Homo sapiens: one gene and its partners. The protein of the gene in region 1 purifies or fractionates together with the protein of each later gene. This does not show direct contact. Each region holds a gene or a part of one and is shown in the gene's direction. Other genes may lie near its edges. The genes, in order: ALDH3A2, INTS12, DYM, BRAT1, ZDHHC5, IPO13 and COXFA4.

Region 1 (3,500 bases):
GATCATCTTACCTGAGCATGGCTATGCAGAGGAAGTAGACACTCAGCCCAAATTGTTTCTCTGACCTGAGGAAGATGTGGGCAATGGATTTGGAGTGGCAGTTTATATACCCCCTGGAAGTGGTGCTGCAAGAAGCTGTCCCCAGCCACATTGCCAAGATAACCTATTAGAAACTGGGGGTAAAGGAAAAGTGCCAACTTGTTATTGTCAGATGACTTCTCTTTTGGTTGACGAGCCAGTTTCTTACTTACAGCATCTTTTGGAGTACTGCTAGTTGGTGACTTACATTGGCAGCAGATGCTGGGACACTTTGTCTAGCCTCCCCAGCATCTGTTTCACCCTCCTTTCTTGTGCCTCTTCCCCATGGTAGATGGAACAGTGGACTAAGGTTTAGGGAATTTTGACCATTTAAGTCTGTTTTCTTAATCTGTCTAACAGAGTTATAATAAAGGTTAATGAGATCATATATATGAAAGCACTCGAGTTAAGAAAAATAGTATTGATTTGATTCACAGAGGAGCTGTCTTTGCTCCTAGAAAGACCTGTCCATTCGAGACCAGCCTGACCCAACATGGAGAAACCTCATCTCTACTAAAAATACAAAACTAGCCGGGCGTGGTGGTGCATGCCTGTAATCCCAGCTACTCGGGAGGCTGAGACAGGAGAATCACTTGAACTCCAGAGGCGGAGGTTGCAGTGAGCCGAGATGGCACCATTGCACTCCAGCCTGGGCAACAAGGGCGAAACTCCATCTCAAAAAAAAAACCTGTCCACAGAAAAATGTTAAGTATAATCTACAGTTAAATACATGCATGGCTGTGAACAGGGTTCAATGTGAAAAAGATATATTTGAGTGTGTATCGTTCCCTTGGTTTGCACAAGTATCCGCAGGGTTGTGATTCACAGGCTTTGGAGACATTGAGTATGTGCACAGTTCATCCACGTGCTCAGGATTTTTCAATAGATATGACTTGGGTGGGAGAGGGAAAGGCATGGATAAGTGACCCAATGAAAGAGATGTAATATGAGAGTTGTGCATTTTTGTCTAATAAGCATTTTCATTTTGTTTATTTTCTTTTTAGCCCCAACAGTACTTACCGATGTTGATCCTAAAACCAAGGTGATGCAAGAAGAAATTTTTGGACCAATTCTTCCAATAGTGCCTGTGAAAAATGTAGATGAGGCCATAAATTTCATAAATGAACGTGAAAAGCCTCTGGCTCTTTATGTATTTTCGCATAACCATAAGGTAAGCTTTAGAGAGAACAGCTAGTTAGCATAAGCAACTGTCAAGAGTCATGTTCCTTCTTTGCTGTAAAACAATGCAAAAAACAATGTGAAACAATGATGGTTTCTTTTGTGTCATGTCAGAGTCCATCCACTAAGTGAGGTTGTGTTCCGAGGTTGCTGTCTTGGTTAATGAGACTCTGGGGTTATCACAGCATCCATTCCCCTCCTCCCTCGGGTTAGATCTGAGTCTGCAGGGTTGAGTGTCACAAGGTTTTTGATTCACAAACATCTCCTGTATAATTGGAAGACTTATATGTGCCAGCATTAAATGCTTTTCTGATGTTAATCCACAGGGCATTGCTGAATAACAGCCTGCACAAAATGGCATTCACACCCACTGTGTGGGACAAAGACCCCGACACTGTCACATAAATGGTTGTGATATGATGGATTTTAGTTTCTAACATGACGCTAGCTTCTTGTTAGAGTGGTGGAACTGCATCACCTGGTTGAGCAGTTCTGCCACTTTCTGCATGGCTCACTCATTCATGTCACTAGGTGACCAGCCGCTACTAAGAGACCATGGCCCAAATGTTTTCTGGAGAGCTTCTGATGGTAATGTATAGATAGTCATGTGACAGCTTTTGGAGCTTGTGAGACTATTGAGATACAGATAGCTACAGGTATTTGAAGTGAGACCAAATGTGTGGGGCTCAGTAAAGACTGGGTTATTAACAAAACAATGGTTTGACATTTAAAACCATGGATAATGTGGGCAGGAAGGAACCCTGAAGCCGAAAGTAGGCTGGCCAGGGTATAAGTCAGGTGTGGAGCACTTCCCAGCAGTGGGTCACCCGAGGTCACTATAGTCCAGACTTGACGTTTGCCATGAACAATTGTCAAGGGCTTGCTGGCACCCAAGGGTAAATGACGTTTACTAGTCAAGTGTTCTTGTGCTTTTCTGAGCCTTAGGCCAAACAACCATTTATTTCTTAAAAAATAGGATGCTAAATCTAAAGTCTTAAATATTTTTACATTTCATAAAGACTAAATAATACCTATTAATCATGTGTTATAATTTAAAGCAGAGATAAGAAAGAAATAATAACAGTTTTTAAAGCTGGAATATAGTCTAAGCTGTCCCCTTTTAAAGAGTCTTTTGCTGCTGTGTTGGGGAGTACAACTCCAGGTTGTGGCTGAGTAGGCCCAGAGGTTTGGAGCTGCCTCCTTTTGTGCACTAGATGTGTGTCTGAGAAGTTGGGTATCAGTCACTTTGCTAAATTAACCAGTTGAGATTGTTTGTCTATCTGGCATGGTGTCCCCAAACTCGAGAATTTTCACTGACACAAAGCCAGAATGTGCATGCTTTGAGCACATAACTGAGCACACAGCCCTCTGTGTGGTGGGGCCATGAGTGTTCCCTAAGGGGCAACTTCACTGACCTGGACACCTTTGGTCTGTCCTCAGCTCATCAAACGGATGATTGATGAGACATCCAGTGGAGGTGTCACAGGCAATGACGTCATTATGCACTTCACGCTCAACTCTTTCCCATTTGGAGGAGTGGGTGAGTCTTATTTTCTCCTGCTTGTAGTAGATATTTCAAAAGCACCACCATTTCATGAGTGGATTGTATGGGCTGCTGAAATAGCCAGCTGTTGCGTACCCTGATTGTCCTCTCCTGAGGGAGACCTTTTCCTGGTCACCCAGTTGACTGGTTTTCCTGCTTCCCCACCCACCCCTCCAGCATAGGGCAAATGTCTTGTCACTCTCTTTCTGTCAGCAGCACTGACTGACCACAGCTTTGTTCACTTCGTTGATTTTGTTATCCTGCCACATTTAGGAGATTTGGGAACCAAGAATCAGGTCTCAAATTAATTAAGAAGATCTCTCTTCGTGTGTGTGTGTGTGTGTGTGTGTGTGTGTGTGGTGTGTGTGTTTAATGAAGTAGCAAATGAAAGGTTCGGAATACCAGGGACAGAAGGTAGAGGGGTTTTCTAATGTGCCTTTGTTTTCTGCTCAGTTCTTACCTGCATTGTTCCCCAGCCCTTTGTTGGGAGGAGCAGCCTCTCCTTGAATTGTTTTGTGATTTGAGTAAAACGGGACTCCCCCTGTTCTAGAGAGGATGGGCAGAAAGAAATTCATTCCAAGTGAAGCTTTGTGGACATAGCCTGATCCTTGCTTTTCCCTTTAGAACATGACCTGCCTGCCTCTCCCACATGTGAGATGACTGACTCAGCTTTTTATTTCTCCTTTGGGACCTAGGCTAG
Region 2 (3,500 bases), on another chromosome or scaffold:
GTAAGAAAGAGTATATTGGAGGACTTGAAATAAGTCAGATAGCTATAACAGAGAGAGTGAGAATGGCCTAAGATACTAGGTAACATTTAATGAGTGTCAACTATGTGTCAGGTACTGTTGTAACTGCTTTATATGTATTATTAATCATGTAGAGCAATGGTCCACAACCTTTTTGGCACCAGGGACCAGTTTCATTGAAGACATGGTTTCAGGATGATTCAAGTGCATTACATTTATTGTGCACTTTATTTCTCTTATTACTACATGGTAATATATAATAAAATAATTGGACAACTCACCATAATGTAGAATCAGTGGGAACCTTGAGCTTGCTTTCCTGCAGCTAGACGGTTTCATCTGGGGATGATGGGGTATACTGTGACAGATCATCAGGCATTAGATTCTCATGAGGAGCACACAACGTAGATCACACACATGCACAGTTCACATAGGATTCGCATTCCTATGAGAATCTAATTCCACCAGTGATGTGACAGGAGGCAGAGCTCAGGTAGTAATGCAAGTGATGGGAGTGGCTGTAAATACAAATGAAGCTTCCCTCGCTTGCCTACTGCTCACCTCCTGCTGCATGGCCTGAAGGTTAGGGACCCCTGATGTAGAGAATTGGAGACCTTGTTAAGAATCTTATTCTTGAACCTTTGGATTGTGAGAAGTGATAAAAGGATTTTAAGCAAGTGAGTGATATGAAAAGGTTTAAAGGGATGACAAGAGTGATTGTGGGAGACTGATTAAGCTTTTGCAGTGGGCCAGATAATAGATGATGCTAGGTTGGTCTAGGGTGGTAGTAGTAAGGATTGAAAAGGGTGGATAGATTTGAGGTATGTTTAAGAGGTTTGGTTATTGAATTGGGGGTGGGAATTAAGGAAGTGGGAAGAGTTAAAGCTGCTTCTGGGTTACTGGCTTGGGCAATAGGGTAAATATCATTTGAAAAAGGGATTACTAGAGGAAGAACTGGTTAGGAGAAAAGGGAATAGTGTATGAGTGGCTCTGTTGGAGACACGTTGCATAGGAGGCACCAATGATATATCCATGTCAAGCTGGCAGTTGGATCTTGGGAGAGACACATGGACTGCAGAGATGTATTAGTAATCACTGGCAAAAGACTATATAGATCAAATTGTCTAGGGCAATAATTCCCAAACTTTAGAGTAGATAGAATTGCCTGGAAGGCTTAACACAGATTTCTAGACCCTACTCCCAGAGTTTTTTCTTCAGTAGGCCTAGGAATGGAGACCAAGAGTTTGTATTTCTAAGTTCTGACGTGATACCTATGCTGCTGACTCAGAGAACACATTTTTGGAAGAAGATGTAGAACAAGTCAAGAAGAGACCCAGAACCTAGCACTGAGGAACTCATTTTTAATTGGATAGGAGGAACCTACAAAGATGACTGACAAAGAAGTAGGAGGGACAATCGTATGTATTAGGTTTACCTGACTGAGGCGGCGAATGACTCATGAGAGCATTTTCATGGAATAGTGGGACAAAGGCTGAATTGCAAGAATTGCTGTGTAAATAGAAGGAATGAAGAAAAAGAGTACAAAAGCATATGATTTCTGAGAACGTTTTGCTATAAAAGAGAAAAGATAGAAGATGTTTGAATATATTTAATGTCAATGAAAAGATGCCAGTAGAAAGGCTGAAAAAAAAAAAAAGAAGATATGGGAAATAATCCATAGGCCAAGGTTCAAGAGGGGACAAGAAGAGATAGGATCCAGATCCAGGTGACACTACATAGAGAGCTACCTTCTCCTTTTTTATCAGATGGGAAAGAGGAAAGGATGAGTGCAGGTAAGTTTGTAGATGTGCTGGAAGGAAGTCGACTTAATTCCTCTCTGACAGCCTCTCTTTGTGAAGTAGGTGAGGCCATCTACTGAAACACAGAAGCAATTTTAAAAGAAAATGGAGGAAGTATAACTGATCTTTGCAGAAAGTGGGGAAGTGAGTTGACCAGAGAAGGATGAGAGAATTGCCAAGTTGTACTGAACGCCAAGCTGAGAATGGTGATTCTGAAGATAGAATGTATGTATATTCCTCCCAGTTGCACTTAGAGTTTGGGTGCAGGCAGAGAGAGAATGGCTAGCAGGGTGGATGTCTATAAAGTAGGGAAACTACAGGGCTTTCGGGTGCCTAGAGTACTGAAAGAGGTATTGAAAGGGTGGACCACAGAATGTGAGCTGGATAGGAAGTAAACGGCATACTGCAATAAATCAAGGATAATAAGAGATACAGAAAAAAGATCATTGTTCAGTAATGGCGATTTTTGTGCTATATGCATTTGACACAGCTAATTCCCAGCATCACCTAAGAATTCACTCCTATCAATACTACTACTACCACTTCCCTAGGTCAGCGAAAGCTTTAAAGTGGTAAATATTAATTTTCTCACATTCTCCTTTTTGAAAGCAACATCTACTTTTTAAATGAAACCTACATTTAATATATTAAATATCTTTCATATATACATTTTTCTTTCATACACACACACAGGACTTTGTTTTCTAGAACTCTAATCCATAGTAAGAATGATATGGCTCTTTTGCAGTCTGTTTTGGCCATGGGTTTAGGAATGAATATACAGGAAAGGAATTGTATAGAAGTAACATGATTTGGTGTAACTCCAGGAAAATATTTTTGTATGTGTAGATCAACACAGTTACACCAAGTTGCTGACCTCTTTATGACTGCTGTAGAAAGTAAACTTCTTTCACTATATGGATATTTGCCGGTAAGGAAGGAAAAGTAACAGAGATTAGAGAAGGCAACAGAAAAGGGGGAGTAAAGGTAAGATAGAAAACTAAAATATAAAATATAAACCACATAACCATAAGTGTTTTATTTTAGGTTCAACTACTGTTTTCTGTTTGGTGAGGAAACAAAAGTCAGGGCAAGAGGGTGCCAATAAGGAGAAAGCAGAAGGGACAAGAAATTGGAGGCTTCTGTAACAAAGAACAAGTAGAATGGGAATAGAGAAATGAATAAATACAGAAGAAAGATTGACTTGGCACTTTGAAGAGGTCCCTGGATTAAGGCAGTGGAAGAGATAGAGTAATGGAAGATTGTAGTCAGAAAGGAGAATTGATTGTAATAAAAGAGGACAATAGTTGTGGCAAGTTTCAGATTTCACTGGCTGAAGATAAAGCTCCTTGAGGTTAAAGATCAATTATATAACACACTATTATCACTCTGTATATGAATAGATTTTTAAAAAATAAATAGAAATAGAAATAAATTGGCTGGGCGCGGTGGCTCACGCCTGTAATCCCAGCACTTTGGGAGGCCGAGGCGGGTGGATCACAAGGTCAGGAGATCGAGACCATCCTGGCTAACATGATGAAACCCCGTCTGTACTAAAAAATACAAAAAATTAGCCGGGTGTGGTGGCGGGCGCCTGTAGTCCCAGCTACTCGGGAGGCTGAGGCAGGAGAATGGCATGAACCCGTGAGGCGGAGCTTGCCATGAGCCGAGATCATGCCACTG
Region 3 (3,500 bases), on another chromosome or scaffold:
TAAATATATTTCTTTTTCTTTCTTTATTTTTTGTTTTTGAGATGGAGTTTCGCTCTTATCGCCAAGGCTGGAGTGCAATGGCACGATCTTGGCTCACTGCAACTTCCGCCTCCCAGGTTCAAGCCATTCTCCTGCCTCAGCCTCCCTAGTAGCTGGCATTACAGGTGCCCGCCACCATGCCCAGCTAATTTTTTGTATTTTTAGCAGAGATGGGGTTTTACCATGTTGGCCAGGCTGGTCTCAAACTCCTGACCTCAGGTGATCCACCCGCTTTGGCCTCCCAAAGTGCTGGGATTACAGGCGTGAGCCACTGAGCCTGGCCTTTTAAACATATTTCTATCAGTAATAACTCCTTAAGATATCTGGTAGAATTTAAATTTTTCTAGTTCTAGAATCAAGTCATCATTAATTTGTTTAATGAGCTTTCATTTAAGTAGGTGTTAAGTATTTTTCTTTGTTTTTCATAATTATTTCATTTTTATAAAAATATTTTAGTATTCTTTTGGTGCTATTGCTCTTTTTACTGCGTTGTTGAGGTTTCTACTTCCTTGGTCTTAACATGTTCCCCATTATAATCCTGTTTAAACTTTTGCAGTAACTGGAAATTTCTGGATGCCTTTATTCCTCTGTGTGCTTTCTGTTCAGCTGAATCTTTTTCTTTTTATTTGATCTAAGACTTGTTTCCCAAAGGGGTTTATGATCTTGAGAGGACAGAGTAACCCTTCATAATCAAAATATGCTTAATAAAACAGGAATAACTTGTTTACTGTTAATATTTTGCTGAACATGCAAAGTTGACCTTGAGAAAGGTAGGCACTAGAGACACAAGATCTAGGGTGTATTATTGTTCTGATTGTAAAGTGATCATCAACATGAAAAGGCATTGTTTTCTTCCCTACACTGTACCTTCTCTTCAGCTTTACAATCTGAGTATTTGTCTCTGTATTATCACTAAACAGAAATGAACATAGATGTCTAGAGTGAATCTTCAAAACAGAACACTGCTAGTAACTATTTCCATTATACATAAATAGACTTGTCATTTAATAGGAGATGGAAACTGGAAAATAGGGAAATAAAGGGATAACTAACCCAAATACACCAGCTAATGACAGGGAAGGAGTTTAATATTTTTGCTTGACTTAATTTTTGTATTAAACGTATTAACATTTTTCAGTAACCTGAAAATACTGAATATTTAGATTTGAGTTTTTAAATGTATAGTTCATTTAGAAAAGAATAGTGTCTTAATCTTCCAAAGTGACTGTTACTCTGTTTTTCTTCCATTTTAGAGATATTACATATGAAATATCAGTAGAAGCTATATCAACAATGGTTGTTTTCCTTTCCTGCCAACTCTTCCACAAAGAAGTTTTGCGACAGAGCATCAGCCACAAGTATTTGATGCGAGGTCCATGGTATGTTTCTACTTTAAGTATGTCTAGTTTTTTCATTGTATAAATCTATATTTCTAGTCTTGTCCTTTTACCTGAGTATCGTCCCATATCTCCAACCAGGTATTTCCTCTAGTTGTTCTATTGTCTCTTTAAACCCAGTGCATAGGGAACCGCATTCTACTTTCCTGTGCCATCTACCCATCCTCCCTGTTCTTCCTGTCCCGTAGCTTCATTACCTTCTCCAGTGGTTGCTTCGTAGAATTGAAACTTTGAAATCATCTTTTTCTTCCATCTCCTTCATTCTGTCTATGTTTAAGCAGTCAAGTCATATTTGTTATTCAGATTATTTTTGTATCTTCCTCTTCTCAGCAGTCCCTTTGAAACACCTGTGATCTATGCCCCCTTACTCTCTTTGGACTTCTCCAGCAGCCTCTTCGCTGACTATTCCTACTTCTTTGAGCCTGCAAATATTTGCTGTGTGCTATCCATGTGCCAGGCATGTTAGACTGTGGGGCTATGCTCTTGAGCAGAAGCTTACGATCTCCTAGAGGGTGTGGATGCAAATGACCAACACATATGCACATACCTGACCTTTTATTAACATAATCTTCACAAAACTTTAAAAATGTAAAACAAATCCAAATAAAGTACCTTTGAGGAAAGTTCTCAGATAGTGGGGAGCTTTGTCTTCTTCATATTCTTTTTGCTACCCTGATTATTCCTGTGGCATGTATGTTCTTTGAACATATTTGAAAATCACTGAGGGAAAGGATCTGGGCTTTGGAGTCAGAGGTTTGCATTGGAACCCTCTCTGACAGAGACACTCAGAATGACACTCAGAATGACCGTGGTTTGAAGTAGTGCTGGCATCGTGGGACTGTGTGCATCTTTGCTGAAACAAGATTGTGAACTTCATCCCTTATAGTGCCAGAGTATTCAAGTTGCTTTTTAAAAATAGACATAGAGGGTGTTAGTGTTCTTATTTTCTAAGTAAGGTTTTTATAGTATCATTATGGTGCCACATATTTAAACCGTAATATGTTCTTTACTTATTTTTGGGGTTCATCTTGGAAACCATATTTAAAAAGCTCAATAGTACATTAAAGAATCTGTTAAAAAGTTTACTCTATATTGCAGGAATTAGTTTAATACCAATTGAATAATTGAATAATTTCATACTTAAAAAGTGTAGTCCTATTGTTATTTTTAAATTCTTGCTTTTTTCTACTGATTCTTTATTACTACTTCCCTTCAATTGCCAGATAATGTGTTATGCACTAAATTTATAATAGCTCACAGTGTTATACCGAATGTAGATAAAGTAACTGGAGTTCAAGAGTTCAAGTGGGCTGGGCACGGTGGCTCACGCCTGTAATCTCAGCACTTTGGGAGGCTGAAGCGGGAGGATCGCTTGAGTTTAGGAGTTTGAGACCAGCCTGGGCAACATAGTGAGACCTTGTCTCTACCAGACCTTGTTTCTCCCCACTGCAGAAAAAAAGTATTTAAGTAATTTGATCAATATCTTATGATGTGATAAGAGGAAAAGCAAGGATTAAGCCTCAAAATTGCTCTCAAAGCCCATGGTCTTCACTGTTGTGTGCAGTGCTCAATTTCTGTGAGTTGTGCCAATAGCCCTTTTGTATTAACAGATAGTGTTAATGGCAGAATTATTTCTGTATTGTTATTCAGAATTAGATGACTCCCATAAATATGAGTTTGATTTTTTTTTCCTTTTTGTATAGTCTTCCATACACCAGCAAACTTGTGAAGACCTTATTATATAACTTTATCAGACAAGAAAAGCCACCTCCTCCAGGGGCCCATGTTTTCCCTCAGCAGTCGGATGGGGGAGGACTGCTTTATGGACTTGCATCAGGAGTAGCAAGTAAGTTTTATCAGATTTTTTCAATTCTTTGGTGCACATAAATTTTATCTATTTAGGCATAAGAAATTCTGTTTGCTTGGCTGCCACCATTAATAGTTACATTGAATTTGTGCAGCTGGTTCAATGTGAAAACAAAGTAATTAAAATATTAATCTTTCTGTTTTGTGCGGTGATTTATGTAAAATGTATGCAAATAATGAATGGATTACCTACAAAAC
Region 4 (3,500 bases), on another chromosome or scaffold:
CGATCTCCTGGGCTCAGGCAGTCACCTGCCTCTGCTTCCCAAAGTGCCTTTTACCCTCTTTGAGCTAAATATCTAGGTCTTCCTTGTTTTCTAATATATATATTTAAGGCCAGGCACGGTGGTTCATGCCTATAATCCCAGCACTTTGGGAGGCTGAGGCAGGCAGATCACTTGAGGTCAGGAGTTGGAGACCAGCCTGGCTAACATGGTGAAACCCCGTCTCTACTAAAAATACAAGAATTAGCCTGACATGGTGGTCCATGCCTGTAATCCCAGCTACTCGGGAGGCTGAAGCAGGAGAATCACTTGAACCTGGGAGGCAGAGGTTGCAGTGAGCCGAGATAACGCCATTGCACTCCAGCCAGGGCAATGGAGTGAGACTCTTGTCTCAAAAAAAAAAAAAAAAAAAAAAAAAAAATATATATATATATATATATATATATTTAAGACTATGCATTTCTCTAAAAGTATGACTTTAGCTACATCTTACACGTTTTACATTGCAGTACTTTGGTTTTAATTTAGTTCTGAGTATTTTATGCTTTTCATTATAATTTTTTTTTCACCCACAAGTTACTTAAAAGAGTATCCTTTAGTTTCAAAATATGGATTTTTCCAGTCTTTTTATTATTGATTTTTAATTTACTTTGTGGAGGTTAGAAAACATAACATATGTTTTGAATCTTTATAGCTGTTGAGACTTTTATTGAGACATAGGACCCAGGCGAGTTTTCTCAATGTTCTAGAGATTTCACTATATGATTTTGATGTTTTGGTATTTGAAGGTCTTCAACTGTGGCCTAGTTTGTAGTAGTCAGTTTTTCTTTTTCTTTTTTTTTTTTTTTGAGCCAGGGTTTTTGCGCGTCACCCAGGATGGAGTGCAATGGCGTGAACACGGCTCACTGCAGCCTTGACCTCCTGGGCAGTCCGCCTGCCTCATTCTCTTGAGTTCCTGGGATCAAGGTGTGTACCAGGCCCAGCTATTTTTTTTTTTCCCATAGAGATGAGGTCTCACCATCTTGTCCAGGCCAGCTTGGAACTCCTGGGCTCAAGCAGTCTTCCCGCCTGGGCTTCCCAAAGTGCTGGGATTACAGGAGCGAGCCACCATGCCTGGCCTGTATTTAAATTTTAAGAAGTATTTTTCAGTAGCTTTATTGAGATATAATTTGCATACCATGCCATTCTCCCATTTAAGGTGTACCAGATCCTTTTACAGTTTGTAAGCATGAGATATATATATATCTATATATAGATATATATATAGATATAGATTTTTTTTTTTTTGAGACCAAGTCTTGCTCTGTTGCCCAGGCTGGGGTGCAATGGCACAATCTTGGCTCACTGCAACCTCCGCCTCCTGGGTTTCAAACGATTCTCCTGCCTCAGCCTCCTGAGTACCTGCGATTAAAGGTGCATGCCACCATGCCCGGCCAATTTTTGTATTTTTAGTAGAGGTGGGATTTCATCATGTTGGCCAGGCTGGTCTCGAACTCCTGACCTCAGGTGATCCCTCCACCTTGGCCTCCCAAAGTGCTGGGGTTACAGTGGAGAGCCACTGCACCCAACCTAAGCATGATAATTGAGTGTTCAGGCGCATGTGTGAGATGTGGCACCATGGAACCCTGGTATGATGTCGGTACGTGACCCGTCTGACATGAGAAATGGACAAAATAAATAAATAAATGGTACCAATTCAACAGTTCTTAGTAAATTTACAGGGCTCTGAAATCATCAGCACAATCTAATTTTGTTCCCCCTAAAGAAACCGAGTCTGGGTTCACAGTGAGTCCCTGTTTCCTCCTCCCTCCCAGCCTCTGTCATTTCTCCTGCATTGTACTTGATGGAAAGAGTGTAGTTTCCACACTCGTTCATTAGTTCAGACCTGCTATGTTCTTGCTAATTTGTTTGCTTGTTTCTGAGAGGTGTGTAAAAAGCTTACACCAAGATCATGGATTCATGATTTTTCTTTGAGATGCATCCTTTTTTTTTTTTTCGCTTTACATATTATTTTTTTCTTTTTCTTTTCTTTCTTTTTTTTTTTTTGTTTTTTTTTTTTTGAGATGGAGTCTTGCTCTATTGCCCAGGCTGGAGTGCAGTGGCATGATCTCGGTTCACTGCAGCCTCGACTTCTTGGGCTCAGATGATTCTCTCACCTCAGCCTCCCTAATAGCTGGGACCACAGGAGCCCGCCACCACGCCCGGCTAAGTTTTTGTATTTTTTGTAGTGACGGGGTTTCACTATGTAGCCCAGGCTGGTCTCAAACTCCTGGGCTCAAGCAGTCTGCCCGCCTTGGCCTCTCAAATCGCTGCAATTACAGGTGTGAGGCACTGTGCCTGGCATTTTTTTTTTCTTTTTTTTTTGGAGACAGGGTCTCACTCTGTCACTCAGGCTAGAGTGCAGTGGTGTGATCACGGCTCACTGTAGCCTCAACTTCCTGGGCTCAAGTGATCCTCCCACCCCAGCCTCCTGGATGGCTGGGACTACAGGGACACACCACCACACCCAGCTAATTTTTTGTATTTTTTTGCGGAGACGGGGTTTCACCACGTTGCCCAGGCTGCTTTACACGTTTTGAAGTGAGGTTAGGTATACATAGATGTAGGAATGTTGTGTCTTTCTGGAATTTATCTCCGTGATCAGTTAACTTACTTCTGCATGAATACTGCTTTTTGCTTTACAGCCCATTTTGTTTGCTATTTCTGTTGCTACATCAGCTTCTTTAAAGTTAGAATTTGCCTACTGTGTCTTTTCTCTCCTGCTCCCAGCCTTTCCTGTCGTTGCATTTTATTGCTTTTAGAAACACCACATTGCTTGTTTTTAGTGTTTAATTTAATCTCAGCAACTCTTTCTTTTAACAGATAAGTTTGATCTCTTTAATTTGTTGAGGCGACTGTTAGATTTGAATTCTTTTGTATTTTTTAATTTCCTGTGCCTTACCTTTGTGCCTTTATCCTCCTTTTCTGCCCTCCATCAGATTGATAAAGCTTTTTTTTTTCTTTTAAATCTTTCCTCTTCTGGTTTTGAAGTTATACATTCTATTTATGTTCTTCTTTTTAGACAAGTTCTTGTGCTGTTGTCCAGGACAGTGGTGTAATCACGGCTCACTGCAGCCTTGACCTCCTGGGCTCAGGTGATCTTCCCATCTCAGCTTCCAGTGTAGCTGGGACTATAGATGCGCGCCACCATGCCCAGCGAATTTTTATAGAGAGGGGATCTTCCTGTGTTGCCCAAGCTGGTCTTAAAACTCCTGGGCTCAGGCAATCTGCCCACCTCGGCCTCTCAAGATGCTGGGACCACAGGCTTATTTGTGTTCTTCAGTGGCTACCCTTATATTTTTAACATGAGAACCGGATTTTTTAAAAAGTCTGAAGTTAATTAGACTTTCCATTCTCTATCCAGGCAACCGAAGGACCTCAGAGCACTTGAACTTCAGGCCATCACAACCTTCTATTATTGTCGTTAGTATTTTAATTCTGTTTTGTTTCAAAACCCTTCAACA
Region 5 (3,500 bases), on another chromosome or scaffold:
GAGATTATTGGGGTGGAGGCAATTATACACAAGTTAAATCTGAGGTAGGAGGGAAGGAAAACTCCCCATATTTAGCTTTAGAAGCCAAAAGATATTCTGAAAAATGTGGGTCACATTGTCTAAAGAGTCAGCAAAGTAATACTGATGTATTTCTCTAGTTTTTAAAGAAGGAGAGAAAGAATCACTATCTAAGGCATGAACACCATCCTACTTCTCACCTCCTCTGAAGCAGAGAAGTTGTAGATTTTTTGGCCCCCAGCTCTGAGCTTGAGCATACCTGCTGGAGTCTCTCAAGGATCTAGAGACAGTGCTGCTTTTCTCTGACTTAATATTTTCTTCATAACCTTTTCCTCTTGCTTAAACTCAACATGTTCAGTGCTCTGTCCTTCTTCATACATTTACTACCAGAAAGAGGGGTGAGTCTTTGGTGTCAGAACTTGTTTTGGTTTTTGCTAATATGGCCAGGAAGTAGAATCAAAATTTTAACTAAGGGACATTTATATTATATCTTAGTATCCTGTAGCAATTTTGGTTCTGGGTCAAGAGGGGTATGTACAAGACCAGTTTGACACCCTTAACTCTGCTCAATTGGGGAGGGTCTATTTTCCTTTAAGAGGCAAAGCCTTTGGAGAAGGAAATTGAGGGGACTAAATGATTTCTGTCTTTCAAGCTCCCTCTTCTTGAGATAGAGCAAGCTGAATCCTTGTTTTTAATTTGCTAATCTGGAACCATTGAAGTGTTTGACTGGTTATACCAGTTTGCCTACAAAGAGTTGTCCTGACATAGGCATTTTCTCAACTGATAGTTGAAGCTGTTTAACCTACTTTCTCATTCCCTGGTGCCAGTAAAGTAGGAGCCCTCCTTATTCCATGGTCTCTTAGCTCTAGGAAAAAGGATTTTGGAGGACAATATTGACCTTATTTGGAATTATTGCCTCTCATCCAAAGTTAGAAGAACCCTAAGTCATAGCTGGAGTTCCTTCCCCCTGGCGCTAGTTTCCACAGGACCAATTTCTGGGCTCCATCTTTTCCTAAGCATCTCCCCTAGTCACCTTGTGGGGGCACAAACACACTGTTTATCTTACTCTAGCACCTAGCTCGGGTAATTCTGAAATTCTCATCTCCTCTTCTCCATCTGACTAGAGTATTTCCTCTGTAAGCATATATCTGGGCTGAGGCACCACTGTTCTTAAAAACTATCCTCTCATGTATTTTACCTCTTTCGAGGTTCAGTTCCCTGGAGAATCCCCTGTTTAAAACCATACAACCTAAAAAAGAGTTCAGGGTTTCAAATGGAGAGGCAAGAGGAAAACTCTCTGAACTAGCTCCTATGTGGGGCTGTAAATCTGTAACTACTCTATCATCCTCCTATTCTCTTCACTAGGCTACAACTAGCTACATTATTAGAAGCCCCAGGTGAGAATTACTTTGGGATATAGAGGAATGCGAGTAGGAGGGAGAGTCCCTTTCAGGTAACAGACATAATTAGTGGAGGCATGTAGACTTCAACTAGTTAGGAACAATTTACCTTCCATGTTTCTTTGTTAAGTTGGGGAAAGCTATGAGCAGAAATTACTAGTTGAGTTTGCATCAAAGAAATAGTGATCTGCCCCAGAGAATCTTGAACAGAACAGTTCAGGCCTTCCTCCTGGAACTCTAATCCCTCTCATTCCCTGAATTTGTCCAGCACTAAAACTAAGGAATGGTGGGGATCCTGTCTTAATTCTTCTCTGTTTTCACTATTTGGGAGGGAGAGTGTCTGCTGAAGTAACCTTCTACCTCCCAGTTAGTTACTAGACTTCATTTAGGATAACTACTTGGATGCTTATCTATCTTAGTTTAATCTTGTTTTTTGACTGGCAGAGGGGCAGTCCTAGGTAAGTGGGATAAGCCCTCTTTGGGGGAGGTCAGGAGATTGATTCTGGTGAAGTCTGTTAACCTTTGTGGACCTAAGTTCTTCCTGTTTACAGTGAGAACGTTGACCTACAGCAGTTTGTTTAAGCAACATGACCCTTTTTCAAATGAAATCTTATATACAAAAAAAAAAACCAACATAAAAATTAGGGCTGCTCTGGTTCAAGTGAGGCTGGCATATAGAGGCCCAGCCCCTTGGTATCGCCTCTTTACCGTGTAGGATCTCCTGAGACCTAGTGCTCCTGGTAACACCATTTCGAATCACTTTGAATTGTATCTTGTTTAAAGTCTCATCAAACTGTGAATTAGTCCAGTTAAGGTCTTATTTTATCCATTTCTAAAGCTGGTGGGAGGGGGCAGGATAAGATCTCTGCTTCACGTGATTTTTTTTTTTTTTTTTTTTTTTTTTTTTTGAGATGGAGTCTTACTCTGTCGCCCAGGCTGGAGTGCAGTGGCGCGATCTCGGCTCGCTGCAAGCTCTGCCTCCTGGGTTCATGCCATTCTCCTGCCTCAGCCTCCCGAGTAGCTGGGACTACAGGCACCCACCACTACACCCGGCTAATTTTTTGTATTTTTAGTAGAGAAGGGGTTTCACCGTGTTAGCCAGGATGGTCGTGATCTCCTGGCCTCGTGATCTGCCCGCCTCAGCCTCCCAAAGTGCTGGGATTACAGGCGTGAGCCACCACGCCCAGCCCCTATTTTATCCATTTCTAAAGCTGGTGGGGAGGGGGCAGGATAAGATCTCTGCTTCACGTGATTTTTTTTTTTTTTTTTTTTTGAGATGGAGTCTTACTCTGTTGCCCAGGCTGGAGTGTGGTGGTGTGATCTCGGCTCACTGCAACCTCTGCCTCCTGGGTTCAAGCGATTCTCCTGCCTCAACCTCCTGAGTAGCTGGAATTACAGGCGCCTGCCACTAAGCCCAGCTAATTTTTGTATTTTTAGTAGAGTTGGGGTTTCACCATAATGGCCAGGCTGGCCTCAAACTCCTGACTTCAGGTGATCCACCCACCTCGGCCTCTCAAAGTCCTGGGATTACAGTCGTGAGCCACCGCACCTGGCCACTTCACGTGATCTAAGGGAAGGATAAAGTCAGAGTTGTATGGAAATCCATGATGGTCTTTTCAGGCTCCCATCCATTATATAGTTTGCGGCTTTTCAGTTTCTGCCTCAGTCCTCTTCCAACCCTTTTACCCACAGGAAGTTGGCCGACCTCCATGGAGTTCTCTCTGGTCCCCCCTCCCCCGTAACTGCAGAGGTATTAGCACCTGATTTGAGTGGGAGCAGCCTTGTGATTTAGCACATTAATGGAGCAGTGGTTGTGCCTTTTCCTTCTCACATTGTTTTCTTATCCAGGAATAAGTGCCCAGGTCCTACGTCTCACATTCAGCTGGTTGAAAGTCTGGGTACCACAAATCAGGTGTTTTCAGAGAAACTGGGTTGCCCACCTGTAAAGGGAGAAATTGTTTTCTCATGGAATCTTGAGGAAAGGATTTCTAAATGAGGATCCCCATGGGCAGGAAGTGGAACATTCATTTCAGCCTTCTCTCATCAACAAGGAACACTAGTCATATGCTCAAGCAATATGCT
Region 6 (2,287 bases), on another chromosome or scaffold:
CTGCTGGCAACCTAGAGCCTGCGAGACATCTGGCCCTGATGGAGGGGGAGGGAAAGGTGTCTGGAACCCAAACTTTCTGCATTATGATCCCCACCCCCAACCTCTCTCACGTACACCTGCGTGTTCATGTACACATACATGTACATAGCATCCCTTGAGCTGTCCTCACCTGACCTACTGAACTCTGAGGTGGTCCGGGTCCCCCAGAGATGGCTGGGTAGCTGGTTTTGGCAGCCTCTACCTGTGAGGTGTGAAGTTGGGGGCTGGGGTGGCAGGTGAGTGGGGGGGATGGTCCTTGGAGCTGGCTGGGGCTGGGCTTACCAGCTCCACCTCCTGCAGGCTCTGAAGCGGAAGCCAGATTTGTTCCTGTGTGAACGATTGGATGTCAAAGCTGTGTTCCAGTGTGGTAAGTGGGGCGAGATGGACAGGTGGGCCTGGGGCTCCCCTAGAAGGATCGTTAAACTGATCTGCCTCTGCCTTTCCCACAGCTGTGCTGGCCCTCAAGTTCCCTGAGGCACCTACTGTCAAGGCCTCCTGTGGCTTCTTTGTGAGTCCCATGCTGAACCCTGACCCACTGCCACCCCAGTGCCCTCCCCTGCCCAGGACTTCAGACAGTAGGGCTGGGGTGTACAGGTCTTGTCCTCAGGGAGAGCTGGGAAGGAGCTGGGCTGATGGGCCTCTCCATCCTCTGCAGACAGAGCTGCTGCCTCGGTGTGGGGAAGTAGAGTCTGTGGGAAAGGTGGTACAGGAAGACGGTCGTATGCTGCTCATAGCAGTGCTGGAGGTGAGACGGAGCAAAGGGGGGTTTGATGGGGGTGAGGGCCCCTCACTGCTGAGGCAGCTGGCCTTCTGGGAGGCTTGAGCCTTTGGTCCCCTAAGCTCTCAGATTCTGTTTCTTCTTCAATTAAATGCCTGAAAGTTGTTAGGATTGCTGTGGGGATCAGCTGGCTCTCAAAAAGCAGCGCTCACTGTGATGTGCAGTTTGGCTTAGGAACTGTCCAGAGGGCAGTTAGGCATTCTTGCTGCAGAAGCGGCGGAAGGGGCAACACCCTGGTGTGCTGAGAACCCCTCTCCCTCAGGCCATTGGGGGCCAGGCCTCCCGCAGCCTCATGGACTGCTTTGCCGATATCCTGTTCGCCCTGAACAAGCACTGCTTCAGCCTCCTGAGCATGTGGATCAAGGAGGCCCTGCAGCCACCTGGTTTCCCCTCTGCCCGCCTCAGCCCTGAACAGAAGGATACCTTCAGCCAGCAGATCCTTCGGTGAGCAGAGCTGGGGTGGGCCTGGGGTCAGGCAGAGAGGGGGCAGTGGTGGTGGCTGGTGCTAACCTGCTCTCCCTTTTCTCCTTCAGCGAGCGAGTGAACAAGAGGCGGGTGAAGGAGATGGTGAAGGAGTTCACACTGCTGTGCCGGGGTCTCCATGGCACAGATTACACAGCTGACTACTGAGGGGTGCCCCCATCCCATCCACCCCTTCTCTTCATCCTTCCCTATTCCCAAAGAGTAAACCTGGACCCTCACTGCTGTCTCTGCCTCCTTTCTGCTGTCACCACCACCTAACTGAAAGCCTGGGTCCAGAAGGCCTGGGGGAAGGATGGGAGGATGCTTGGACCCAGGCCTTGGGAGGGAATGGTGGGAACATCCTCTAGCTCCCAGGTTGGAAGAGATACTACTGTAGCCAAGCCACCTAGGCTGGAGCCCTTCAGAATACTGTCATTGTCCTTGGGGCGGGGTGGTTGCAGTAGTGTCATCAACCCCCCCATCCCCATTAAATTAATCCCAACATGCATGTATGCATACATTTATTTAATCAACACCGCCGAATATTAGGCCCCTAGCTCTGTCCTGCGTCGTTCTGCCCTGAACAAAGGTTGATCTAGTCCATAGCTACCATGGAGAATGGTAGGAAGTGAGGGAAGGCTGCATGGAGAAAGTTTTTGACAGGAATAGTAGGCTTTCTAGGTAGAGGACTTGAGACTTTGGGCTGCAAGTGGGGTAGGGCTGGGTCCGTTTAGGAAGGAAGAAATGGAGTGGAGTTTTGACTTCCGGGAGGGGTTTCTGGTGTGGAGTTATACAACATCGAACTTGCATATGGTTGAGGAGGGCTATAGAAAGGGGCTGAGTGTGTGTGTATTGGGGGGTGGGTGGGTGGCAGGGAGGTGAAGGAGAGAAGATATCTCAGCCGCAGAGGAGAAAAGAGGAAAGTAGGACCTAAGGTTGTCCATATGTCCGCTGCTCCCCGCTTACACAGGACCTCCAGCACAGGATGGTCAGGGATCAATCAGCACC
Region 7 (2,855 bases), on another chromosome or scaffold:
TTTGATTTATCACTCTGAAGAACAGGGTCCCCGATCAGTGTGTGTCCAGCACTGCTTGACAGGTGTACATCTATGATGGATTATTACTCATAGCAACGTTTTTTTGTTGTTGTTGTTGGAGACAGAGTCTCACTCTGTCGCCCAGGCTGGAGTGCAGTGCCATTATCTTGGCTCACTACAGCCTCCACTTCCCAGGCTCAAGTGATTCTCTTGCCTCACTCTCCTGAGTAGCTGGAACTATGGCACGCACAACCACACCCAGCTGATTTTTTGTGTTTTTAGTAGAGATGGGGTTTTGCCGTGTTGGCCAGGCTGGTCTTGAACCCCTGGCTTCAAGTTGATCCGTCTGTCTCAACCCCCCAGTGCTGGTATTACAGACGTGAGCCACTGTGCCCGCAGCCTGATAGCAACTTTTAACATCACCCTTTGTGGATTTCACGTTTTCCCCTTAACCTGATTATAATTTGGCTTCTAAATCCTTCAGTAAATCTCCTTACAAGAAGAAAATAAAAATGCAATGGCTAAGCTGAAACATCGATCTCATCTGTGTTATATTTTGCCTCTAAAAAGATAAACGGGCATCCTGATTTGTTTTTATGTCTTATGACATTGTTTATGAATTTGTTTAAACTAAGTCCATTCCAGAGAAAATAATTCCACATACAAGAAACTTTTAAAAAGTAAACAAACAAACAAAAAAACTAGCAGGCTTTGATTCTTCCACCAAAGAGCGTATTGGAATCTATGGGTATGTGTAGTTCAAAAAGTGTAACAGATGATTCCGATAATGCAGCCAGTCTACTAATGTTCTGAAATATCACAACACATGCCAATATGAGGCCTTGGGAACCGAAAATGAAATGTTGCTGTAACAACATAGCTGTTAATAGCTATGACACTGATAGCAGAGTCTGGAAAGATGAAGAGTGTCATGTTATGAAATGACAGAAATGAAAAGGAACCAAATCCAGAAACTTGAGAAGCTGGAGTAAATGAAACCTACTTAATACTTTTTCTAAACCCATTCAGGTAGACTAGATTATTATCTCCATCATTCACAATCTCTCACCTAAGAGAATATGTTTTTCTGGCCCACTGACATCAGATTTGATTTGTGACTTGCTGTGGGAAATTATGAGTTGGAGGAAATGATACCTGCCACTCTTGGACCATTATGTGGTCCCTCCGTTCTTTTGCTTCTCTCATGAGACCAAAATTGACAAGTAAGGGCTACTTATTCACCTTAGAATTGGAATGAAACAAATATGGAGCAATCAGCATACAGATGGCATATAATGTGAGTGAAAAGTGAACTTTTGTCGTTGTAAGCCGCTAAGATTTGAATGTGTTAATTTGGGCTGCCGTAACAAGATACTGTAGACCAGGTGGCTTAAACAACAAATTTATTCCTCAGTCCGGAGGCTGGGAAGTCCAGATCAAGGTGCCAACCAATTCTGTTCCTCATGAGGGCCCAATCCAGTTGTGTCCTCACAATATGGAAGGAGAGGAGTGAGCCCTCCTGTAAAGGCACTAGTTAGAGTGTTCCACCCTCATGACCTAATTACCTCTCAAAGGCCCAGCCTCCAAATACCATCACCATTGGCGTTTGAGGTTACAACATGAATTTTGGGAGGACATAAACATTCAGTCCGTAGCAGAGGATTATTTGTTGCCATGCTATAATCTAGCAAAAGCTATGAATAAAACAGCAAGAGACAGGACCAAAATAAGATTTGAGCATTAAAGGCCCAGCAATACTTCTCAACTGAATAACAGTTGAAGCTCCCCAAAGCTAAGATCAGAATATGTTGTGCCTTCCCAACTATTGTTTCAGAGACTCTAAAAGTAGCCAGCATTAAACTGAGAAAAAGAATAGAGGTAGGGAAGTTGAAAGCAGGTTTTAAAATTCTAGAGAGAATTTTGGATATGAAGCAAGTAAATCAGGAGCCTGCTTAGTTTTAAGAAAATTGGCAACAATGCCATGAATGTGCTTTTGACTCTGCGTGGGTGTAGGGCCTTGATCCTGCAAATCGTAGAACTTGATCTCAATTACCTCTTTTATAAATTAAGAATCAGAAGGGTTATTGTGATGATTAACTAAGATATACATAAAGCATCTAGCCCGGTGCCTGGGCAGGAGCCCAACAAGTGTTTATTTTCCTGTCCTTAATATATACCTGCAGACCCTTCTGTAAATTATTTCTGATATTTTGTTAATATGTTAGAGGATAGCACAAGTAGTTTCTTTTTCTTTTTTTAACCTTATTGTCTAGGTTAATTGTTTCTTAAAAGAACACTGTCAGAACAAAGAATACTGCTTTATGGATTATTTATAATTTTCTGTCCATAAAAGTCTGTATCTGTCTGTATCTCAACGATAACTTGGTAATAAGCTTTACAACCTGAGGATTTTTTTTGTCAGTAAAATACTTAAGAGTTTTTCAGAAATAAATAAGTTCGGGTATATTTGAAGAAATAAAAGGGGTTTGAAGAAAGAATGAATATAGATTTGTGAACTTCATGCTTAAAAACCCTGAAGAAAATGTTTATCATTCTGAAATTGTGGTTCTTTTGGAGATAAATAACATAGTCTTCAAGTAATTATAGCACAACCTCTTTAGCATTCTTTGGCACAAGAATGAGTAAACCCAAGATTTTAGCCTTATTTGGGCTTGTGTACAAGCATTAATATGTCCTTAGTAGAAACTCTGGACCAGTTTCAAATATGTCATTTTTTTTTAAGTTACTGAGAGAGGGAGTTTTTTTTTTTTTTTTTTAAAGCAATCACAGTAAGATTTATTTCTAAAAATTAATATTAATTGATTATAAAGAAATGTTGGAAATGTAAACAGCAA

The links.
Region 2: the proteins of ALDH3A2 (region 1) and INTS12 purify together in Homo sapiens (affinity purification with mass spectrometry; 3 studies listed by BioGRID and IntAct, with this or other methods). This does not show direct contact.
Region 3: the proteins of ALDH3A2 (region 1) and DYM purify together in Homo sapiens (affinity purification with mass spectrometry; one large-scale study listed by BioGRID and IntAct). This does not show direct contact.
Region 4: the proteins of ALDH3A2 (region 1) and BRAT1 purify together in Homo sapiens (affinity purification with mass spectrometry; 2 studies listed by BioGRID and IntAct, with this or other methods). This does not show direct contact.
Region 5: the proteins of ALDH3A2 (region 1) and ZDHHC5 purify together in Homo sapiens (co-immunoprecipitation; one large-scale study listed by IntAct). This does not show direct contact.
Region 6: the proteins of ALDH3A2 (region 1) and IPO13 purify together in Homo sapiens (affinity purification with mass spectrometry; 3 studies listed by BioGRID and IntAct, with this or other methods). This does not show direct contact.
Region 7: the proteins of ALDH3A2 (region 1) and COXFA4 purify together in Homo sapiens (co-immunoprecipitation; one large-scale study listed by IntAct). This does not show direct contact.

What each region holds. Positions count from the first base shown.
Region 1 is NC_000017.11:19,662,251-19,665,750, forward strand, and holds part of ALDH3A2 (aldehyde dehydrogenase family 3 member A2), read left to right. Parts: intron 1-1,082; coding exon 1,083-1,249; intron 1,250-2,697; coding exon 2,698-2,797; intron 2,798-3,500.
Region 2 is NC_000004.12:105,702,190-105,705,689, reverse strand, and holds part of INTS12 (integrator complex subunit 12), read left to right. Parts: intron 1-299; exon of another isoform or gene 300-376; intron 377-1,880; 5' UTR 1,881-2,042; intron 2,043-2,666; exon of another isoform or gene 2,667-2,804; intron 2,805-3,500. UniProt on the Homo sapiens protein: Component of the integrator complex, a multiprotein complex that terminates RNA polymerase II (Pol II) transcription in the promoter-proximal region of genes.
Region 3 is NC_000018.10:49,331,646-49,335,145, reverse strand, and holds part of DYM (dymeclin), read left to right. Parts: intron 1-1,292; coding exon 1,293-1,418; intron 1,419-3,139; coding exon 3,140-3,282; intron 3,283-3,500. UniProt on the Homo sapiens protein: Necessary for correct organization of Golgi apparatus. Involved in bone development.
Region 4 is NC_000007.14:2,549,025-2,552,524, reverse strand, and holds part of BRAT1 (integrator complex assembly factor BRAT1), read left to right. Parts: intron 1-1,559; exon of another isoform or gene 1,560-1,655; intron 1,656-3,400; exon of another isoform or gene 3,401-3,459; intron 3,460-3,500. UniProt on the Homo sapiens protein: Component of a multiprotein complex required for the assembly of the RNA endonuclease module of the integrator complex.
Region 5 is NC_000011.10:57,674,614-57,678,113, forward strand, and holds part of ZDHHC5 (palmitoyltransferase ZDHHC5), read left to right. Parts: intron 1-3,500. UniProt on the Homo sapiens protein: Palmitoyltransferase that catalyzes the addition of palmitate onto various protein substrates such as CTNND2, CD36, GSDMD, NLRP3, NOD1, NOD2, STAT3 and S1PR1 thus plays a role in various biological processes including cell adhesion, inflammation, fatty acid uptake, bacterial sensing or cardiac functions.
Region 6 is NC_000001.11:43,966,236-43,968,522, forward strand, and holds the end of IPO13 (importin-13), read left to right. Parts: intron 1-339; coding exon 340-406; intron 407-488; coding exon 489-547; intron 548-694; coding exon 695-784; intron 785-1,079; coding exon 1,080-1,261; intron 1,262-1,350; coding exon 1,351-1,447; 3' UTR 1,448-1,787; downstream 1,788-2,287. UniProt on the Homo sapiens protein: Functions in nuclear protein import as nuclear transport receptor. Serves as receptor for nuclear localization signals (NLS) in cargo substrates.
Region 7 is NC_000007.14:10,934,299-10,937,153, reverse strand, and holds part of COXFA4 (cytochrome c oxidase subunit NDUFA4), read left to right. Parts: intron 1-2,855. UniProt on the Homo sapiens protein: Component of the cytochrome c oxidase, the last enzyme in the mitochondrial electron transport chain which drives oxidative phosphorylation.